Homo sapiens: one gene and its partners. The protein of the gene in region 1 purifies or fractionates together with the protein of each later gene. This does not show direct contact. Each region holds a gene or a part of one and is shown in the gene's direction. Other genes may lie near its edges.

What was found.
Region 2: the proteins of GSTO1 (region 1) and TAGLN2 fractionate together in Homo sapiens (co-fractionation; 2 studies listed by BioGRID). This does not show direct contact.
Region 3: the proteins of GSTO1 (region 1) and NUDT9 fractionate together in Homo sapiens (co-fractionation; 2 studies listed by BioGRID). This does not show direct contact.

What each region holds. Positions count from the first base shown.
Region 1 is NC_000010.11:104,257,867-104,264,892, forward strand, and holds part of GSTO1 (glutathione S-transferase omega-1), read left to right. Parts: intron 1-1,709; coding exon 1,710-1,932; intron 1,933-5,112; coding exon 5,113-5,211; intron 5,212-7,026. UniProt on the Homo sapiens protein: Exhibits glutathione-dependent thiol transferase and dehydroascorbate reductase activities. Has S-(phenacyl)glutathione reductase activity. Also has glutathione S-transferase activity.
Region 2 is NC_000001.11:159,922,508-159,929,811, reverse strand, and holds the start of TAGLN2 (transgelin-2), read left to right. Parts: upstream 1-4,304; 5' UTR 4,305-4,362; exon of another isoform or gene 4,363-5,333; intron 5,334-5,860; exon of another isoform or gene 5,861-5,934; intron 5,935-6,077; exon of another isoform or gene 6,078-6,341; coding exon of another isoform or gene 6,342-6,376; intron 6,377-7,304. Other genes in the region: IGSF9 (protein turtle homolog A isoform a precursor), read left to right, coding at 1-174, 419-461, 794-1,654, 1,925-2,052, 2,286-2,467.
Region 3 is NC_000004.12:87,453,547-87,459,955, forward strand, and holds the end of NUDT9 (ADP-ribose pyrophosphatase, mitochondrial isoform a precursor), read left to right. Parts: intron 1-824; coding exon 825-909; intron 910-4,296; coding exon 4,297-4,475; 3' UTR 4,476-5,909; downstream 5,910-6,409.

The sequences.
Region 1 (7,026 bases):
TATGAAATATTTCAAAACAAAAATATTTACTGAGTCCTTATTTGAAACTTTTTATTTTCTTCAGAGCATTTATATCTATATAGCATTTTGCTCATTTACATGTTTGTTTATTACTATGAACAGATACACAAGATCCCACCTTTCGTGAAGCTTACATTCTAGGAAGATAACAAACTTGTAAATAAGTGAGCAAAGTAATTTCAGATACATATTATCAGTTCAATGAAGAAAGTAAAACATGATAATCATGTAATAGAAGCTGCTCAGCAACTTCAGAGCTATGGTCAGGGAGGGCCTGGGGATGTGTGTTTGACCTGGGAAGACCTGGGAAAAGGCAGGCAGAGGAGGCAGAGGACCATCAAGTGCAAAGACTCTAAGGTGGAAACACATTTGGCAAATTCAAGGAATATAAAAACCGCCAACGTGTAAAAGAAAACATAGGGGAAAAGCTTCATGACACTGGCCTTGGCAATGATTTCCTGGACATGACACCAAAGACCAGGCAACAAGACCAAAAATAAACACATGAGACTACAGCAAACAAGCTTCCACACAGCAAAGGAAACGATTAACAGAGCAAAAAGGCAACCTATGGAATAGGAGAAAGTACTTGCAAACCACATACCTGGTAAGGGGTTAATCTCCAAAATACATAAGGAATCTCTACAACTCAACAACAAAAAAACCTGATTTTAACATGGGCTAAGATCTTACATAGACACTTCTCAGGCTGGGCATGGTAGCTCACGCCTATAACCCCGAGGCAGACAGTTCACTTGAGCCCAGGAGTTCAAGACCAGCCTTGGCAACATGGCAGAATCCTGTCTCTACAAAGAAATTAGCTGGGTGTGATGGTGCACGCCTGTGGTCCCAACTACTCGGGAGGTAGGAGGATCGCTTTAGCCCAGGAGGTCGAGGCTGCAGTGAGCTGCGATCAAGCCACTGTACTCCAGTCTGGGAGACAGAGTGTCAAAAAAAATTAAAAATTAAAAAAATAGACATTTCTTCAAAGAGGATATAAAAATGGGCAACACATATATGAAAAAGTTCTTATCACTAATCATCAGGAAAATGCAAATCAAAATCACATAATAACCTCACACTTGTCAAGATGACTATAATGAAAAAAGACAAGTGTTAGCAAGGATGTGTAGAAATCAGAACCTTTGCACACTGTTGGCGGGAATGTAAAATGGTACAGCTGCTATGGAAAACAGTATAGATGTTCTTCAAAAAATTAAAACTAGAACTACCATGTGATTCAGCAATCTCACTACTGGGTATATATCCAAATTAAATGAAATCAAGTTCTCAAAGAGATATTAGCACTCTCACGTAGACTGCAGCACTGTTCACAACAGCATAATGTCAATGTCCATCAGCAGATGAATGGATAAAGAAAATGTGTTAATGCTATTCCACCTAAAAAGGAAGGAAATTCTGCAATATGTGACAACATGGATGGACATTGCGGACATTATGCTAAGTAAAATAAGCCAGACACAGAAAGACAAATACTGCATGATTGTTCTTAAAAGGTGTATCAAAAGTAGTCAGATTCATAAAATCAAAAACTAGAATGGAAGGAATCTAGGCAGACTCCTAAATTTGGGGTCTGATCAGCTAAGTGGATGGCAAAGCCAGTGAGAATTTATCCAAAAGCACAAAAGTTGTTTCCTTCTCTTCATAGTCTCCTATGTGTCTTTCAGGCATGAAGTCATCAATATCAACCTGAAAAATAAGCCTGAGTGGTTCTTTAAGAAAAATCCCTTTGGTCTGGTGCCAGTTCTGGAAAACAGTCAGGGTCAGCTGATCTACGAGTCTGCCATCACCTGTGAGTACCTGGATGAAGCATACCCAGGGAAGAAGCTGTTGCCGGATGACCCCTATGAGAAAGCTTGCCAGAAGATGATCTTAGAGTTGTTTTCTAAGGTTTGTGCATAAGAAATTTCAGCTCCTATTTGAAAAACCTGTTTTTTAAAGCGAAATCAGTGCTGCCATTTATGGTTCAGTGATTTGGGAGAGAAAAACAAAACAGGAATATGCTTGTCAGCTCTGAGTGTCCTGCAAGTCCTTTCACGATCCAGTTCCTGTTTACCTCCAAAATTATCCCTTTTCACTCGTCTCCTGACACTTTATATATGCCAGCCATACTAAACTTTTCTCAGAATTCCCAAATTCGCCCCTTTCTCTTTCAATTCTTGCTGTCAGATTCTTCCCACTTCTCACTGTGCCTGGTTATCTCCACGTCATTTTTCACATGTCTGCTCCGACACTGCTGCCTTTTCAGGAGCTTGGCAGGCTGGTTAGTGCTCTAGCTTCTGAGTTCCCATCCGTGTGAACTTTTGCCTGCCTTCTTGCCTGTGTACTGCACTGGGGCTGTGAGCTCCTTGAGGGTGAGGGCTGTGTTTTGATCACTGTTAGTTCACTGCCTAGTTTTATGACTGGCTCTGCTACTTTCTTGTGACTCTGAGCAAGTTACTTATTACTTTGCCTCTCCGTTCATCATTGGTAAAATGGATATAGTAATTGTTCCCACCTCATAAGATAAAAATCAGTTAATATAAAACACCCAGAACAGAGTCTGACACATGGGAACTACTTAATTCTTGTCCTTATAGCCATAGCATCAAGCAGTGAGCATCTACTTTGTGTTGGCAATAACTCAGATGACTGAATAAATAGCAATCCTGTAGAAGAACTGTTTGTACCTTACTTAGCATCAACACTGTGGATTAGTTCAAACAATTAGTATTAACAAAGAAATGACTAAAAGATGTGTGTTTAGACACCAAGAATAGCATGTCTGGTTATATGCCTATAACATTGTCACCTTGGTAGTACGGTCAGTATATAAAGGATTATCTTTAGAGAAAAAGATGGTTAAAGAAATGCCCTAAGAGAGAGTTATAGGGAAAACATTCTGTTTTAGGAGACATTATAAAGGGAAGCCAATGGGACAGGAAGAGTGAGTCATCTGCTTAGTAAGATGAGGGTGAAAGAATAGTAGAGGCGGCTGCTGTGAAAGATAATGTAAAGGGAACATGACATTTTCAAGAACGATGTGGGAGAGTTTTACAAAGTAGTAACAAGTTAAAGGCATGCAGCTTCAAGACACGAAGTCATCAATACCAACCAAAAAAAATAAGCCTAAGTGGTTCTTAAAGAAAAATCTCTTTGGTCTGGTGCCAGTTCTGGAAAACTTTTTTTAGTATGGCTGGAATATAAAGTGTCAGGAGAAGAGATAAAAGGGGTAACTTTGGAGAGGTAAACAGGAACTGGATCGTGAAAGGACTTGTAGGACACGTCAGAGAAAATGAGCTTTAAAAGTAAAGCTTTTAGACATGAAGCTTTACTTTCATGCATAAAGCTACTACTTTAAAAAGTAGTCACAAGAGATTCATTGTACTATCTAGAAAGAAAATGAGATTTAAAAGTAATGCTGAAGATGCCCACCTTTACTTCCCTGCTTGGGTTTTAAAGGAGAGGTGGCTTTATGTACATATGACCCTGCTCTCCTGGCCACAGCCCATCAGAACAGAAATGTACCCCACCCCACACACCTGGGCCAGTTATCTTCTCTCCTGGGAACTTGGAAATGAGACACAGAACTAAGACAGTAAAGGTTAGGACAGTAAAGACAACTAAGCGTTGGGGCTCAAATAATGTTAATTAGAGGCTAGAAAAACCAAAGCCACTTAAGAAATAAATTTTTAGAGGAGCAAGAATTAAAAACATTGCAAAGGGACTGAAGTATGCAAAGTAATATGGAGCAGAAATGTGAGGAAAAACAGACGAAAGACCAGGCAGACCCAGGTGGAAATGTGGATGAAAGGGCTGCCTGAAAGCCTTCAGTCCCAGTGAAGGCAGGCTGAACTGATGTGGATGGGATTTCATGGGATTCTATATTTTTACAAGTGCCTGTTTACTTAAACTAGGATGAGTGGACTTCTGCGTCTTGCAATAAAATGATACCAAAGACCAAAGTATTAAAACACATAAACACCATCACGAGCATTAAAGCATCTGATGCTACACCCATCAAGTCTTTAGGTAGTCGGTCCCTTTTGAACAGTCTCCTGGTGTCCTCCCCAACAAAGAAATCAGAAAAATTTTCTTCCCTAGCTCTTTGCAGTTGGGGCCAAGTTTTGTGACCTAGGCTCTTCCTGTCAGACACACACATAGAGTTCAAATCAGAAACGAGCAAGGTAAGGAAACAGGCTTGGTGGGATATCTGCTTAAGATATTCAGCTCTCCACTGGTTTTCCTGGTGAGAGCAGCGGCAGAGCTTCTGGGTTTCAGCAGTGTGGGTTACAAGATAAAATTCCAGAGTAGAAATGGCATCAGTGCCAGTGGTGTTAGCAGTTATCTCAGACTCTACTTTCTGGCAGCCTCACAAACTGAAGCATCTGGTGCTCAGCTTGGACTGGCAGCAGTGAGTGCTTCCCATTAGGCCATTTCTCAGCATGAATTTGGGATGTTCTGTCTTAATTCCAAGCCTGTTTGTTCCGCCTCCCAATAATTCTATGAGCCACTCAGTCTCCTTTAAAGAAAGTTGTGTTGGCCGGGCGTGGTGGCTCAAGCCTGTAATCCCAGCACTTTGGGAGGCTGAGGCAGATGGATCACCTGAGGTCAGGAGTTTTCAGACCAGCCTGGCCAATATGGTGAATCCCCATCTCTACTAAAAATACAAAAATTAGCCTGGCGTGGTGGCGCACGCCCATAATCTCAGCTACTAAGGAGGCGGAGACAGGAGAATTGCTTGAGCCCGGGCAGTGGAGGTTGCAGTGAGCTGAGATCGTGCCACTGCATTCCAGCCTGGGTGATAGAGCATGACTCCATTTCAAAAAAGAAAGAAAGTTGTTTCTTAAACGTGCCAGGGTAGCTTCTGTTATTTGTAATTTATAAAATCCTGACCAAGCCAGCATTTTAGGCCACAAAACTGTTCCTAAGACCAGTCCATTACCTCTGTGAGCGCAGGAACTTGATGCACCCTTGGTGTTTCTAGAACACCTTGACACCAGGACTGTAAGGGTTCTACCATATTTTTATGTGAGGGGGCCGATACAGTTAGCCATAAACTGATAAACTAAGAAATTATTCTCTGTCTAGGTGCCATCCTTGGTAGGAAGCTTTATTAGAAGCCAAAATAAAGAAGACTATGCTGGCCTAAAAGAAGAATTTCGTAAAGAATTTACCAAGCTAGAGGAGGTAATTATTTCTCCTAGCTATCATCAGAGTAAACGATAACTATATCTACCCTCCTTTTCCTCCTATTCTTTTCTTTATATTCCCACTTTCCAAGTCACTTTAAGGTAATTAGGAAAATTCCCCTAAACATTTTTGTTTACAGCAGACTGCTGTTATAAAGCAGAAAGCTGTCCTGCTTAAGATATAAATCAAAACACCTAAACAGACTTTGTCATGGGCTTGCTTTTAAAATATTCTGCTAATGTTAAAATAACAAGGAAAAAGGAAATTGTACCCACGTTTCCACAAGTTTTTATGTATCCAGTTTTCCATGCTTGTTTGCAGTCCTTGTCCATATATTTAAAAAAAATTAATATAGCTCTAATCAGAGCATAGATATCATTCTGTGTCCTGCTTTTTTTCCTGTGTCCACTTAGTATTACATACTAAATATTTCCCACCAGAAAAAGTTTGCAATGAACAGTACAGACACTTGAGGGAAGCCCAGATGTATTTTACCTTCTTTTGGGGACAGCTGACATTTGGGCCTTGGAGTCTGTCTCTTGGCCTTGAAATATTTCATTCATGCTAAGCCTGAAGTTTTTACTGACAGAAGACATAGTTCCTGTCTTTCATGGGAATGCATTTTAACATTTTATCAGTAAGCATGATGTTTGCTGTAGGTTTTTCAGAAACCTTTTTTTCATTATAAAGTTCTCTTCTATTACTAGTTTGCTAATTTTTAAAAAAGTCATAAATGTTGAATTTTATTGAATGGTTTTTCTGCATCTGTTACATCTATTGAAATGTTCATAGAATTTTTTCCTCTTAATCTGGTGAATATGGTGCTATTGACAAATTTTTTTTTTTTTAATGTTTAACCATCCTAGCATTCCTAAGATAAAACCTACTTGTTCTCTATGGATTTTTATATGTACTGTAGAATTAGCTAATGAATGATTTTTGTATGTGTGTTCATAAATGAGATTGGCCTATAAATTTTCTACTCTTATAGTATCATTATTGGCTTTTGGTTTCAAGGATATTCTGACCTCATAAAATGAGTTGGGTAACTAACCTGTTTTTCTAATCTCTGAAACCATTTGGTAGGGACTAGCGGTTTCTTTAAAACATTTGAGCCTGGTGTCTTTAACAGGGGTAGATTTTTCATTACTAGTTTGATTTCTTTAATGGTAATTGGTTTTTTGGTTTTATATTTCTTCTTGAATCAGTGTTGGTACTTTTATATTTTTCTGCTGAACAGTGTGGGAGCTGGAAAGTAAGATGCAGTCCATATTCTTCAGATAATTAGTTTAGTAGTAGACAGAACACAGTAGGTAGATATAAGCAATCTAAAATGCATATTATGCATTGAAAAAAAACTATGGAGGTTATTTATAAAGGGCAAATTAGTTTGGTGGTTTAAATAGCCAGATAATATTCTCAATCACCCCCTTTGGCAAACCCTGTAACCAATTCGCCTTCTTAAAATTTCAGAAACATACAATTTGTGTTTTGTTTTCAAATGATTGTCATCTGTTTAGCAGTTAATCCAGTCTATTTCCAGTATATTTTAAGTACAAATGCTTTTGCACTTACAATGGGGTTACATCCAATAAACCCACCGTAAGCTGAAAATATCATAAGTGGAAAATGCATTTAATAAACCCAACCTACAGAGCATCATAGCTTAGCCTAGCCTGCTTTAAATGTGCTCAGAAAACTTCCATTAGCCTGCAATTAGGCAAAATCATCAAACATAAAACCATCAAACATAAAATATTTATAAAGTGTTGAATATCTCATATAATTTATCGAATACCTGCATCCAAAAGA
Region 2 (7,304 bases), on another chromosome or scaffold:
TGGAGGTCTACCCTTCGCGCACGCAGCTGCCGGGCCTCCTGCCTCAGCCCGTGCTGGCCGGCGTGGTGGGCGGAGTCTGCTTTCTGGGAGTGGCCGTCCTTGTGAGCATCCTGGCCGGCTGCCTCCTGAACCGGCGCAGGGCTGCCCGCCGCCGCCGCAAGCGCCTCCGCCAAGGTAAGTCCCTCCACCCTCAGCCCTGCTACTGCGCACTTGGGCCTAGCCTCCTTAAGCCCCTCCTACCTGGGGGAAAAGCCCTCGCTCCTGTGTGATCCAGGTGCATTCTCTTAGTCCTGCATCTGGTCCTGCCTACGCTTTTCCCAGCCGGATGGGGTTGGGCGCCTGGTGTTGGGTGAGAGAGTCTCCGCCTAGAGGGCCTTGATTTTTGCCTGTGTCACCTACTATTCTCATGCCCTTCCAGATCCACCTCTTATCTTCTCTCCGACCGGGAAGTCAGCTGCACCGTAAGTGCCTCCACCTCCTTGGCTTTCTTCTGCCTTTCCATTGTACGTGCCAGTATCTTCTGCTTCCTTTTTTGCATCTTTACCAGGGGGATGTTGGGTGTTGGGGAGGAACAAAAGTGGGAGAGGGTAAGAAGGGGTGTGCAGTGGCCCCAGCCTGAGGCCGTTCCAGTATGGCCTGTGCCTTCCCTCCACCCCTCCACCTTGTTGGTCCTTTCCTCGCTTGTTCTTCCTAGCTCTGCTCTGTTGTTCACCAAACCTCTCAAGGCCTGACGCTGGCTCCTGGGAGGGGGACCTGCCCCTACCACAGACCCTGATCTCCTGTCCTTCCCCAGCTCTGCTCTGGGCTCAGGCAGTCCTGACAGCGTGGCGAAGCTGAAGCTCCAGGGATCCCCAGTCCCCAGCCTGCGCCAGAGTCTGCTCTGGGGGGATCCTGCCGGAACTCCCAGCCCCCACCCGGATCCTCCATCTAGCCGGGGACCCTTACCTCTGGAGCCCATTTGCCGGGGCCCAGACGGGCGCTTTGTGATGGGGCCCACTGTGGCGGCCCCCCAGGAAAGGTCAGGCCGGGAGCAGGCAGAACCTCGGACTCCAGCCCAGCGTCTGGCCCGGTCCTTTGACTGTAGCAGCAGCAGCCCCAGTGGGGCACCCCAGCCCCTCTGCATTGAAGACATCAGCCCTGTGGCACCCCCTCCAGCAGCCCCACCCAGTCCCTTGCCAGGTCCTGGACCCCTGCTCCAGTACCTGAGCCTGCCCTTCTTCCGAGAGATGAATGTGGATGGGGACTGGCCCCCGCTTGAGGAGCCCAGCCCTGCTGCACCCCCAGATTACATGGATACCCGGCGCTGTCCCACCTCATCTTTCCTTCGTTCTCCAGAAACCCCTCCTGTATCCCCCAGGGAATCACTTCCTGGGGCTGTGGTAGGGGCTGGGGCCACTGCAGAGCCCCCTTACACAGCCCTGGCTGACTGGACACTGAGGGAGCGGCTGCTGCCAGGCCTTCTCCCTGCTGCCCCTCGAGGCAGCCTCACCAGCCAGAGCAGTGGGCGAGGCAGCGCTTCGTTCCTGCGGCCCCCCTCCACAGCCCCCTCTGCAGGAGGCAGCTACCTCAGCCCTGCTCCAGGAGACACCAGCAGCTGGGCCAGTGGCCCTGAGAGATGGCCCCGAAGGGAGCATGTGGTGACAGTCAGCAAGAGGTGAGAGCAGTCCCTGCCCATCCCTGCCTCCGCCTCAGTCCCACCCCAGACCTCTCACCCCTCTCCCAATACCCTGCACCTTCTCTGCTCCACTCCCACCCTGGGAACGGGAAAACTTGTCCCTTTTAGAAGCTTTTGCTGAGGTCCAGGGATTTTTCAGGGGAAACCCATGACCTAACGTGAGTTTGCGGTCGCTGAATTCAGACTTTTCTGAACAGCCTCTATTCCTCCACCCACACCATATGTTTGTCTTTTTTTTTTTTTTTACAGGAGGAACACATCTGTGGACGAGAACTATGAGTGGGACTCAGAATTCCCTGGGGACATGGAATTGCTGGAGACTTTGCACCTGGGCTTGGCCAGCTCCCGGCTCAGACCTGAAGCTGAGCCAGAGCTAGGTGTGTGAGCCCCCCGGAAAGGCAGGCATCTCGGCCATACTGTCCCACATCCCCCCGCCACCTTAGGACCCATCTATTCCCAGTCAGGCCCTGCCTCCCAGGCTCCTCTGCTCTAGACTGTGCCTTGCCCCCTTGGGCCATCTGTACTGGAAGGGCCTAGCGAGCTTCACATCTGAGCTCTTCACTCAGTGAACCTCAGGGCTTCTTCTCATTGTCCTGCCCGCCTCTTGCAGGTGTGAAGACTCCAGAGGAGGGCTGCCTCCTGAACACTGCCCATGTTACTGGCCCTGAGGCCCGCTGTGCTGCCCTTCGGGAGGAATTCCTGGCCTTCCGCCGCCGCCGAGATGCTACTAGGGCTCGGCTACCAGCCTATCGACAGCCAGTCCCCCACCCCGAACAGGCCACTCTGCTGTGAACATCCCTGATGTGAGGCTGTGAAAAGGCATATGGACCTGCAAAGGAGGCCCCCAACCAGACAGACCTAGTTTCAAACGAGGGCACTGCCCCTGCCTGCCCCTTTGGTGCCCAGGCACAGACCCTGATAGTGGGTTTGGGTCACCTTGGTATGGAATGTATGTGCTGACCCCCTAGGTGAGTCTGGGGATTGGAACAGGGATCTTAGGTCTGCCTCTCTCTCTCTCTCTCTCTCTCTCTCTCTCTCTGTGTGTGTGTGTGTGTGTGTGAAGTTTTTTACAGGTGAATAAACAAAGTTTGAAAGATGTTTCTGTGTGTTATCTGTCTTTGAGAGAGTGCCAGGAAAATCCCTGGACCCTTAAAGAAGAGGAGAATCTTCTTGAATAAATGGAGGTGCATTCAGCATTCATTCAAGAACATTTATTGAGTGCTTACGGAGGCCAGCTACTAAAGGCCAGCCACTGAAGTAGATACTGAGAAAATACAAAGCTCTGGAAGCACGCCTTTGCCCTTGAGGAGTTCTTTCTAGTCAGTGAGGCGGACAAAGAAATAGTTACCGTATGATAAGTTCCGTGATAAAGCTATGTGTTGGTTATTGTAGCACAAAGGAAGATGTTGCATTCAAGGCCACCTTTAGTGAACGCTAATATCGTGTGCTGGGACAAATGCCACATATTGGGGGGGAGTCCTCAGGACCCTCACAGATAGATGGTGGTAATAATAGTATTCACTATGTGCCAGGCACTGCTCTAAGCCCTATAGGTGGACTGTTTAGTTCTCTACAATTCTATGAATTAGGTAGTACTATTAGCTCTGTTCTATAGACCAGGGAACTCAAGCATAGAATGCACAACAGTCACACAGCAGGTAAAGGGTAGAGCAGGTGGGGAGCCAGTCAAGGAAGGGAAACTGTCCTAGGCAGAGGAATAGCCTTTGTAAAGGCACAGAAGAGTGAGAATGCTTGACAATCAGTGGGACTGGAATATAGGGCTGTGTAGGACTCGGGGAGGGAACAGAGAATAATAGAAAGGTTGGACAGGACTGGATATTGACATCCTGGAATCTCAGGTTCAAGGGAGGACTCTATCATGTGTGCAGAACTCCACCCCGGGGGACTCTATTCAACTGAAGCCTGAAAGGATGGGGGGCTCTTTCTCCACCCCTGAACTGTGCTGTCCTCCACCCTCAGAGACAAAAGAACCCCAGCCAGCCTCCTCGCGCTGAGGTCTCCCCCTCTGATCCCTCCAGGATTTAGGAAGAGATACCAGGTCATAGAAAAGGAGATGAAAGGCAGGGAGAAGACAGGTCTGAGCCCTGGGTCCCAACACCGAAAACACCCCTAGGGCCCTGGGCAGAGTGACCTCACTGTTAGTCCCTGCCCAGGCTTGAAGTAAGAGGTGAGCAAGATCACGTGGGGGTGCTGTCCCGGCCTGCAAGTCCCAGTCCTGTCACACACTAGTCAGTTGGGGTCGGGGGAAGGCCTTCCTGTGCCTCCTTTTACCTTGCCAGCCTCTAAACTAGGAGGCTTCTTCCTACATAAACACGCCCACAGTGTTTAGCTAACTTTCTAGGCAGAAAGTTTCCTACTGGGGCACAAGTCTACGGGCTCTCGGTGGAGGCTGAGGTACTCACGGGTGGAGACCACTGCAGCCGCCTTTGTAGATTCAGACTCCCCGAACCTTTAACCCTTGCTCTGGTCTACTGTCCCTCTGTCTCAAGCAGTCCTCCCTCCTTCTGCGCTGCGGCGCCTTTAAACCTTCTTGGCCCTTGCCCCGCCCCGGGTCCGCCCCGTCTGAGGCGGGACCCTCCTGAAAATCCCCGGCTGGGCAGGGCGCACCACTTGCAGCTGCAGCCCTTGCCTTGAGTCAGTGCGCCGCTCTCCAGCCCGCTTGAACGGTGAGCAGGTCGGGGGTACGGGGGTCGGGGACATGTGCGTGCTGTGTAGAAAGCAAGAAGCCAGCGCTTTGAACTTGCTCCAGCGAGCTCGGGGATCAAGGGCTGGTACCAGGCAAGGGTCCGGTGACTACTTTACCCCGCCCCGTGCTGTCAGGTCCTGTCCCCAAGCCCTGACCCGACATTGTTGGACGATGAGGTCAGGCGAGGTTAGCCCATGCATAGACAGGGCGTCCGTCTGGAGCAGGGACTCAGGGACTGAGCCCCACCCGCGGGCTCCATCGCTGAGTCCTCACTGGGGCGAGGGGAAAAAAGGGCGTCGGACTTTAGCTGGCTGGCCCCGAGTGACCCCGGGTCGTGGCGCCGGCCCTGGGCCAGCTCGTGCTCCTGGGCTTTCCCGCGCGACCCTTCACTTCCTGGTTCCAGGAGCACGTGTGAGCACTGCGTGCCCTCTGAGTCCCCGAGGCCGCCCTTTTCATTCCTGTTCCTGCTAGCTTGCTATTCTGGGGACTTGAGGTCACGGGCTGGGGCTAGGGGGCTCTGCATGGGTCGCACGGTGACCTTCTGTGAAGCTCCAGTCATCTCTATGACGGTCCCCTGACCTCGGGGGTCTGGGTGCTGCAGCCCTGACTGCGCCCCGGGGTGCCCTGTGTGAGGTTGTGGGGGTGGTGGTGGCTGCTTTTACCCTGCCCGAGCGCCGCTGCCCCCACCGGGTGCCCCCTGCTGCTGGGAAAGCCGGTGGTGGCCGCGGGCGGACGGGCGGGCTGCCCAGACCACTGCGTCACCCCAGCGGCGGGAGGGCGGTGGGTGACTCATCTGTTGTAACGGCCCAGGGTGTGGTCGTGGGGGTGGGGGGCGGCGGCTGGGAGGCCGGACCTGCAGGACCGGAGGTGGACTGCCGCCTCCCCCCGCGCCCTGTGCCTCCTGGGGCTACCTGAAGCCGGTGTCCTGGGAGATCTGTGAGCAGTTGGTATCTGTGGGGCAGAGAGAAACGGGGTGAGAGTGGGGATGGAGTGTGGGATTCGATGTAGAAGACCTGCGGCTGGGACGGGGCTCCCCCAGTGTTCTCATTGACTTCAAAGCACCAGACAGCAATGGCTCTCTATCTCTAGCCCCCTCCCAGTTTCTCCTCCCCACTACAAGGGGCAGACCTACAACTGCAGAGGAGGCCAAGGCAGGGCGGGCCCAGTAGGGCCCTACCATTCCAGAACCAACAAATAGGTTTTGTCCAACCGCAACTCCCTCCCTCACCCCAAGGCCTCTGCCCCTGTCCCCCACCCCGGGATTGGCCCCTAATCCTTTCTTCATTCCATCCCTTCTCCCTCCAGAATTTTCAGCTGTGGGTTCTCTAGCTCAGAACACTTTCCCTTCCCAGGGGATTTCTTCTCCTGAACAACTACTTCCTGAGTCCTCTTCTTCACCCCAACACGGGTCATTTCCTATCTTCCCCCACACGCTGTCCATCCCCACTATAGCTGTCTCCTGGAATAATCTCTTGCACCTGGCTACACCCGAGCACTGCTGAGACGATCCCACTTCTGCTCCCGTGCTCACAGCCTGCTCACCACAACGTCTGTGTTGACAGGGTGTTTCTGCCCGGAGCCCCCACCCAGCCTCCAACACTGTTTGGTACACAGAAGCCATGGCAACGGCCCCCACCTCATCCCCTCCTCCCACGCAAGCTTTGGAGCTTCCTGTTTGTGTAGCCTCAGCTTTCTCTTCTGCTCCTGACTCTCGGTGGTGAGGGGCTGCCCTACGGTGGTTCCCTTAATTGTGGGCCGCCCCCCATCCTTGCTGCTGGCTGTGGCACCTCGCTCTGTGGGCTGGTGCCCTCACTGTGCTGCTCTTTGAGAACACTCCCTGTCCCAAATCTGAGTTGGGAAGTTCTCCTGTGTTCCATCTGCACGGTGGATGGAGAGTCCCTTTGTCTTCCCAATTAAACACCCTAGCCAAGAACCCTGAAGTCCTCCCTGCCCCCACCCATGTCCGCCTTTTCTTTGGCTTTGGCTTTGGTGAGGTAAGCTTCCAGCCCAGGGTCTGGGTGGGGCCGAGTGCCTTGCGTGGCCCCTCCCCGTTTCCCGCCTATTGTAACTCCAGGGTGAGGGTGAGGGTTGTTCTCACAGCTGCAGTAGCGCTAGGGTTTAGGTTGCTCCCTGCCAGTCCATCCCCCAGGTTGTTCAGCTGTCACCTTCCTTTGGGGTCCCCAGCTCTGGGGGTCCCCCACACCTGTCTTCCAGCTGGGCATATCTCTTCTCACCCTGGTAGGCAACTTGCTTACTGTTTTCTTTATGTTTGAGGGAAGGCAGGGGCAGGTCCCCTGGGTGTCCCTAGGGTGGGCCTTCCCAGCTCCAGCAGCCGCAGCCCATCAGCTTCTGCCTGCCCGTGGGGGTGGGGAAGAGAAACAGCTGCTGACCAGGCCTGGCCTGGTTGGAACTGCCCCTTCTCAGGACCCCGCCCTATGGCTCTGGCACCTCAGAGCTTGAGGGCAATGGCCCCAGAGTGGAGCAGATACACTGCAGCTGGAGGCCGTGACCCTGCCAGCTGTGTCCAGGCCCCAGCGTTGGGCGGTGGAGGGGGTTCCTCAGCATCCACTTTCCACCCAGTGGTGGGTCTGGGAGGCCAAGTTTGTCCTGCCTTGGGGGGTTGGGGGGCACTGGAAGTGTCTGGCTTCAGGCCTTTCTCTCTGCTCTTAACCCCAGTGTCTAGGTTAATCATTCTCCTGCCCTTTCTTTACCTGTGCCATGGTGATCCCCGAGCCTCAGGCCACTTGGTCCCTGGAAACAGCCCTGAGCACAGCCACTCCCAGGAGAGAGGTCTGGAACTGGGCTGCGGAAAGGGGGCTTACTGGTGGTAGTAGCTCTTAGCCCCTTCCTCTTCCTACCTGTCTTCCAGCCATTCCCCTGTGCATCAGAGGTTAGAGGTTTCTATGGTGGAGTGGCCTCTGG
Region 3 (6,409 bases), on another chromosome or scaffold:
AGCCTCCTGAGTAGCTGGGACTACAGGTGTTCTCCACCATGCCCAGCTAATTTTTGTGTTTTTAGTAGAGACGAGGTTTCACCATGTTGGCCAGGATGGTCTTGATCTCTTGACCTCATGATCCGCCCACCTCCGCCTCCCAAAGTGCTGGTATTACAGGCATGAGCCACCACGCCTGGCCTGAGGGTTTCATGATTTTTAAAGCTGCCTCAAAAGAGAATATTGTTCTTTGGGAAATTTGAAACAAGCACATGAAGTACTACATTAAAAGTTTTATGATATTTACATTTCTTTCTTTTTTTCTTTCTTTCTTTCTTTTTTTTTTTTTTTGAGACAGAGTCTCGCTGTGTTGCCCAGGCTGGAGTGCAGTGGCGCGATCTTGGCTCACTGCTACCTCCACCTCCTGGGTTCAAGTAATTTCTCCTGTCTTAGCCTCCCGAGTAGCCGGGACTACAGGCACCTACCACCATGCATGGCTAATTTTTTTTGTATTTTTAGTAGAGACAGGGTTTCACCTTGTTGGTCAGGCTGGTCTCGAACTCCTGACCTCAGGTGATCCACCCGCCTCAGCCTCCCAAAGTGCTGCGATTACAGGCGTGAGCCACCGCGCCCGGCTATTTACATTTCTTTAAAAAAATTTTGATAGAAACACATAATGTCAAATTTACCATCTAAACTGTTGAAGGTACAGCTCAGTAGCATTAAGTATGTTCATGTTGTTGGGCAACAGGATATTTACATTTCTGATGCTAGTGAAGGTAACATGCTCTGCTGTACTCACTACACCTTGGACTTTTAAAAAATTTGTCTTCTTTTGAAAATAGATATATAAGGGATATGTTGATGATCCTCGAAACACTGATAATGCATGGATGGAGACAGAAGCTGTGAACTACCATGACGAAACAGGTAACTTTATATTTATTAAACTGGCTGGGATTAAAGGATCAATTTAAGCCATTAGCCCACTAAGGCATGATTAAATCTGGACTATTTAGCATCTTAAACCAATTAACTGTTGATTGTAGGACTGTAGTTATATGAAAGCAAAATTGTTGGTATTAAAGGAATACATAGAAGAAATCTTCAAAACTTTTATCACCAGTGACTAAATTTTCTTTAATCCATTGGTAACATTTGAAATTAAGGATGAAATTATGGGCTAAAATGATATGCTTTAAAGATGTCAGATTATTTATTGAGTATAGTTCCCTTTTTTTGCAAAACAAAAGCAACTGGGATTTGGGTAGGAAGTATGGCAATGATAAAGGAAATGGGATTTATATCTTACTATTTCAAATATTTTTATAATAATCTTGGATTGTTAATACACAAAGCAATAACAAAAAATTCCAAGTACTGAAAAAATTTTAAATGAATGCTGTTTCTGGTGTATGGAATTTAAAATTTTATGAGGAGGGTCAAACCTGTTATTACAGAAGGAGAAAGGAAAAATCTGCTGTCTTAAAAATTAATTTGGTCTTAATGTACACATTGAATGGCTCCCTTGAAACATATTTTATTGCTAAATTTGATTTGTTTTTATTTGTAGCATAAAAGTGGGGGCACCATGCTAGAGAAATGAAATGAATGTTCCACTCATAGTTCTTTCTGAGCTGTGTAACCTTGTACAAATCATTTGTCCTCTTGGACTCAGTTTTTTCACTTACAAAATGGGCTAGAACTAGATCTGTCATTTCCATATCCTGTGCTTTTGCTTGTTGAACTTGGAGGAAACTCCTGGGACCATTTTCTATTCCTGTATTTCCACTAAGGTGTATTAGAAGAGTTTATCCTAGTATGAAAACTTAGAAGAAATATGCAGATGTAAATTAGAAGCAGGTCTGTACAACTTTAGTACTGATAAATTTGTTAACTACTTTAAAGTTTTGGAGTTAAAAACAATGACTGATCCTCCAGAAGTTGATTATAGAGTTTATGGATTGTTCACTGTTTTTACCCTATCTTTTTCTCTCTTTAAACTTAAAAAATTTTGTTTTGATAATTCCAAAATCTCTGCCATATTTGAGTTCGGTTTTAATATTTGCTTTGTTTCTTTAGGCTATGTTTTTTGCCTTTTAGCGTGCTTTTAGTGCTTTTTTTTCTTTTTTCTTTTTTTTTTTTTTTAACCCCGAGATGGAGTCTTGCTCTGTCACCCACGCTGGAGTGCAGTGGCATGATAATGGCTCACTGCAACCTCTGCCTCTCGGGTTCAGGCGATTCTCCTGCCTCAGACTCTCAAGTAGCTGGTACTACAGGCATGCACCACCATGCCTGGCTAATTTTTGTATTTTTAGTAGAGATGGGGTTTCACCATGTTGGCCAGGCTGGTCTCAAACTCCTTACTTCAGGTAATCCACCCACCTTGGCCTCCCAAAGTGCTGGGATTACAGTCATGAGCCACTGCGCCTGGCTGTAGTGCTTTTTTGAAAATTGACCATGATATAACTTGTAAGGGAACTAAGGCAAATAGTTCTTTAGCGTGAGGTTTTATGTTTATCTGGCTAGGAGTTAGGCTGTGTTTTTTGTTTGCTGTCATTGTATGTGTCAGAGGCTAAAATTTCCTCTAGTTTTGGGTTTCCCTGGAGACTTATTAAATGAGGTCTGAAGCATGCCCTTCTTTCAGCTGTCTTCCCCTTTTATTAAACAGGAGTCCTATTGATAGATATGGTGGTAAATTCTAGAGGAAGGGGAATCATAGGAGAATATATGGTTAGATGTCAGTCTTTTAGTGAGCCTGTGGCCCTGGGCTGTGACCCTTCATATGTTATTCTCAGCTTCCCTCCTTCCTCCCCAATCCTTAGGAAAGACAGGAAATCCAGCGGGGGCTGGAGTTGGGTATTTCCTTTCCCTCAGGTTGCTTAGGGCTTGGTAAAATAGTTTTCCTTGAGGGCAGAGTGATCTGGGTGTATTTGAAATTGGTTACCTTTCCCCTCTCCATGTTAGAAAGGAGAGAGGATTTTTCTCCAGTCTTCACCTGGTGGCTTTCTTGGAGGTAAAGCTCACTAAAATGTAGGCCCCCTCTTCATACTGGTATGGCTGACCCCCTAGGAGATTTTATCTTTCAAGCTAGTCCAAAGGTCAGCTTTCAGCAGTTAGTTACCCTTTAAGTGTTCCTACCAGGTGCTGACTCCAGCGGTAGGCTTCTCTCCCTGGTCAGTTGTGATTCTCTGTATTTGCCTGTCTCTCCAGTTTTTGGTATGGCAGTGTGGTCTCTACTAAGAATACAAAAAAATTAGCTGGGCGTGGTGGCAGATGCCTGTAATCCCAGGTACTCGGGGGGCTGAGGCAGGAGAATCGCTTGTACTCAGGACGCGGAGGTTGCAGTGAGCCGTGATTGTGCCACTGCACTTCAGCCTGGTCAACAACAGCGAGACTCCATCTAAAAATAAATAAAATAAAATAAAATATTTAAGTAATGTTGCCTTGAATACTTTAATAGGCTTGTCTCTATTTCATCAGAATAAATTCTTCAAAGAGGAATTACTGGATTGCTTATTGTATCTTCAGTGCCTAGTACAGTCTGGCACACAAGATGCACTCTGATATTTACAGAATGAGTGCTTGTCAAAGAAAACTTACTTTTTAAAAGCTCTTGATAAACATTGCCAAATTTCCTACAGAAATATTCCATTTATATTCCCAGCAGTGATTGGGAGCACTTATTTTTTATTTTTTTGATAATTTAAATTTTTTTTTTTTTTTTTTGAGGTGGAGTCTCACCCTGTTGCCAGGCTGGAGTGCAGTGGTGTGATCTTGGCTCACTGCAACCTCCACCTCATGGATTCAGACAATTCTCTTGCCTCAGCCTCCCAAGTAAGCTGGGACTGCAGGCATGTGCCACCACTCCTGGCTAATTTTTGTATTTTTAGTAGAGATGGGGTTTCACCATGTTGGCCAGGCTGGTCTCGAACTCCTGACCTCAGGTGATCTACCCGCCTCAGCTTTGTTTATTTTTTTACATTTAAATCTCTCATCCCTCTTGGACTGATTTTGATGTAAGGTTTCATATTCATGTAATATAATCTCGTTTTTAAGGATAATCTTTTTAGAGAAAACTCTTTGTGTTTATCTAAAATTTAGGGACTTGGTTAAAATTTGGACATTTTGGAATACTCTAGTTTTTTTTCTTTTATTCATTCTGCTGACCAGGGATGGAATGGTCTAGTTTTTAATTCACTTGGCCGGCTAGTACAATGATGATATAAGATTATTTTAAATAAGAATACTTGACGACATAGATATGCTAAAACAGAAATGAGTTTTTCTTGGTGATGGTTTTTCTTTGGCAACCAGGTGAGATAATGGATAATCTTATGCTAGAAGCTGGAGATGATGCTGGAAAAGTGAAATGGGTGGACATCAATGATAAACTGAAGCTTTATGCCAGTCACTCTCAATTCATCAAACTTGTGGCTGAGAAACGAGATGCACACTGGAGCGAGGACTCTGAAGCTGACTGCCATGCGTTGTAGCTGATGGTCTCCGTGTAAGCCAAAGGCCCACAGAGGAGCATATACTGAAAAGAAGGCAGTATCACAGAATTTATACTATAAAAAGGGCAGGGTAGGCCACTTGGCCTATTTACTTTCAAAACAATTTGCATTTAGAGTGTTTCGCATCAGAATAACATGAGTAAGATGAACTGGAACACAAAATTTTCAGCTCTTTGGTCAAAAGGAATATAAGTAATCATATTTTGTATGTATTCGATTTAAGCATGGCTTAAATTAAATTTAAACAACTAATGCTCTTTGAAGAATCATAATCAGAATAAAGATAAATTCTTGATCAGCTATAACTTCTGTTTCATCTAGTTCTTGTTTGTCAATGCCTTCCCTCCCGCTCCCCATCTTCTGAGGCCTGAAGGATGTTCCTGCCACATCAAACTCCTTTAGGCAGAGTACCGCCACTGGATGTATAGTTTAATGTTTCATCTGATTTTTCTTTAAATTATTTCCTTCACATTTTGCTTCACATGATCTTGTTGAAGCTAATTTTGAAAATGGAAACTATGTTTTCTTGACTTTAGAAGCATTAGTTTTAAGAGGAAATTTCAGCCACTAGTCAATAGAGATCAAAATCAGTGAACAAGAGCTGATACTCTCATTTTCAAAAATTCTGAATTAAAAAAAGTCCAGGAAGTTAGTAATTTAAATCAGTATGTTCATTTCACTCTAGTGAAACTACTATATGTTGTAAATTAGTTAAAAATGGATGTTCAGAAAAGAATTGAAATCAGGACAAAAAATTACAGATGCTAGTGAGGTTGTAGAGAAAAAGGAATGCTTATACGCTGTTAGTGGGAGTGTAAATTGGTCCAACCATTGTGGAAGAGAGTGTAGAGAGTCCTCAAATATTTAAAGATATTTGACCCAGTAATCCCATTACTAGGTATATACCCGAAGGAATATAAATTGTTCTATTATAAACACATACTCACGTGTATGTTCATTGCTGCACTATTCACAATAGCGAAGACATGAAATCAACCTAAATGTTCATCAGTGATAGACTGGATAAAGACAATGTGGTATATGTACACCATGGAATACTATGCAGCCGTAAAAAAGAATAAGATCATGTCCTCTGAAAAGACATGGGTGGAGCTGGAGGCCATTATCCTTAGCAAACTAATGCAAGAACAGAAAACCAAACACTGCATGTTCTCTTATAAGTGAGAGCTAAATGGTGAGAACACATGGACATGGGAACAACACATTCTGGGGTCTATTGGAGGGTGGGAGGAGGGAGAGGATCAGGAAAAATAACTAATGAGTACTAGGCTTAATACCTTGGTGATGAAATTATCTGTACAACAAACCCTCATGACACAAGTTTACCTATGTAACAAACCTGCACATGTACCCCTGTACTTAACAACAAAATAAACACAAAGGAAAATGTTAGCCATGTGTGAATTTTAAACTTCTTGGTAGTCACATTAAAAATAAAAAGAAACAAGTAAAATGGTTTGTAATTATTTAATCCATTATATCCAAAATATCTTAATATGTGATCAATATATAATTATTAAGTAATTATTTTGGTTCTATAAAAACAGGAACAGAGGTGGAGGTCTCTGTGAGTTAGTGTTTTTTTGTTAGGAAAGAAATGTTAAAGATTGAAATAGATTTTTGAGAAAAGCATGGTTAATGTTATAAATCCCAGAGGAAAGGAGGGGGTTGGTGCTTTGGGGGTTTTTGGAAGCAAGGAAAAGGAAAGAAAAGTAGTACTGCCTTGTCTTAGTGGACATGTTTATCTCATTCTGGCTAAGGATCTCTGTTGGAAAGCCCTGTGATAGGAACTCCTATCCACCTAAGTAGGGTTGGGCTATAGCTGGAGCATCTCAGGAAAAGCTTTAGGGGAGACAGACATTATTGTTTTCTTTCCTTCAGATGTTTGAAAA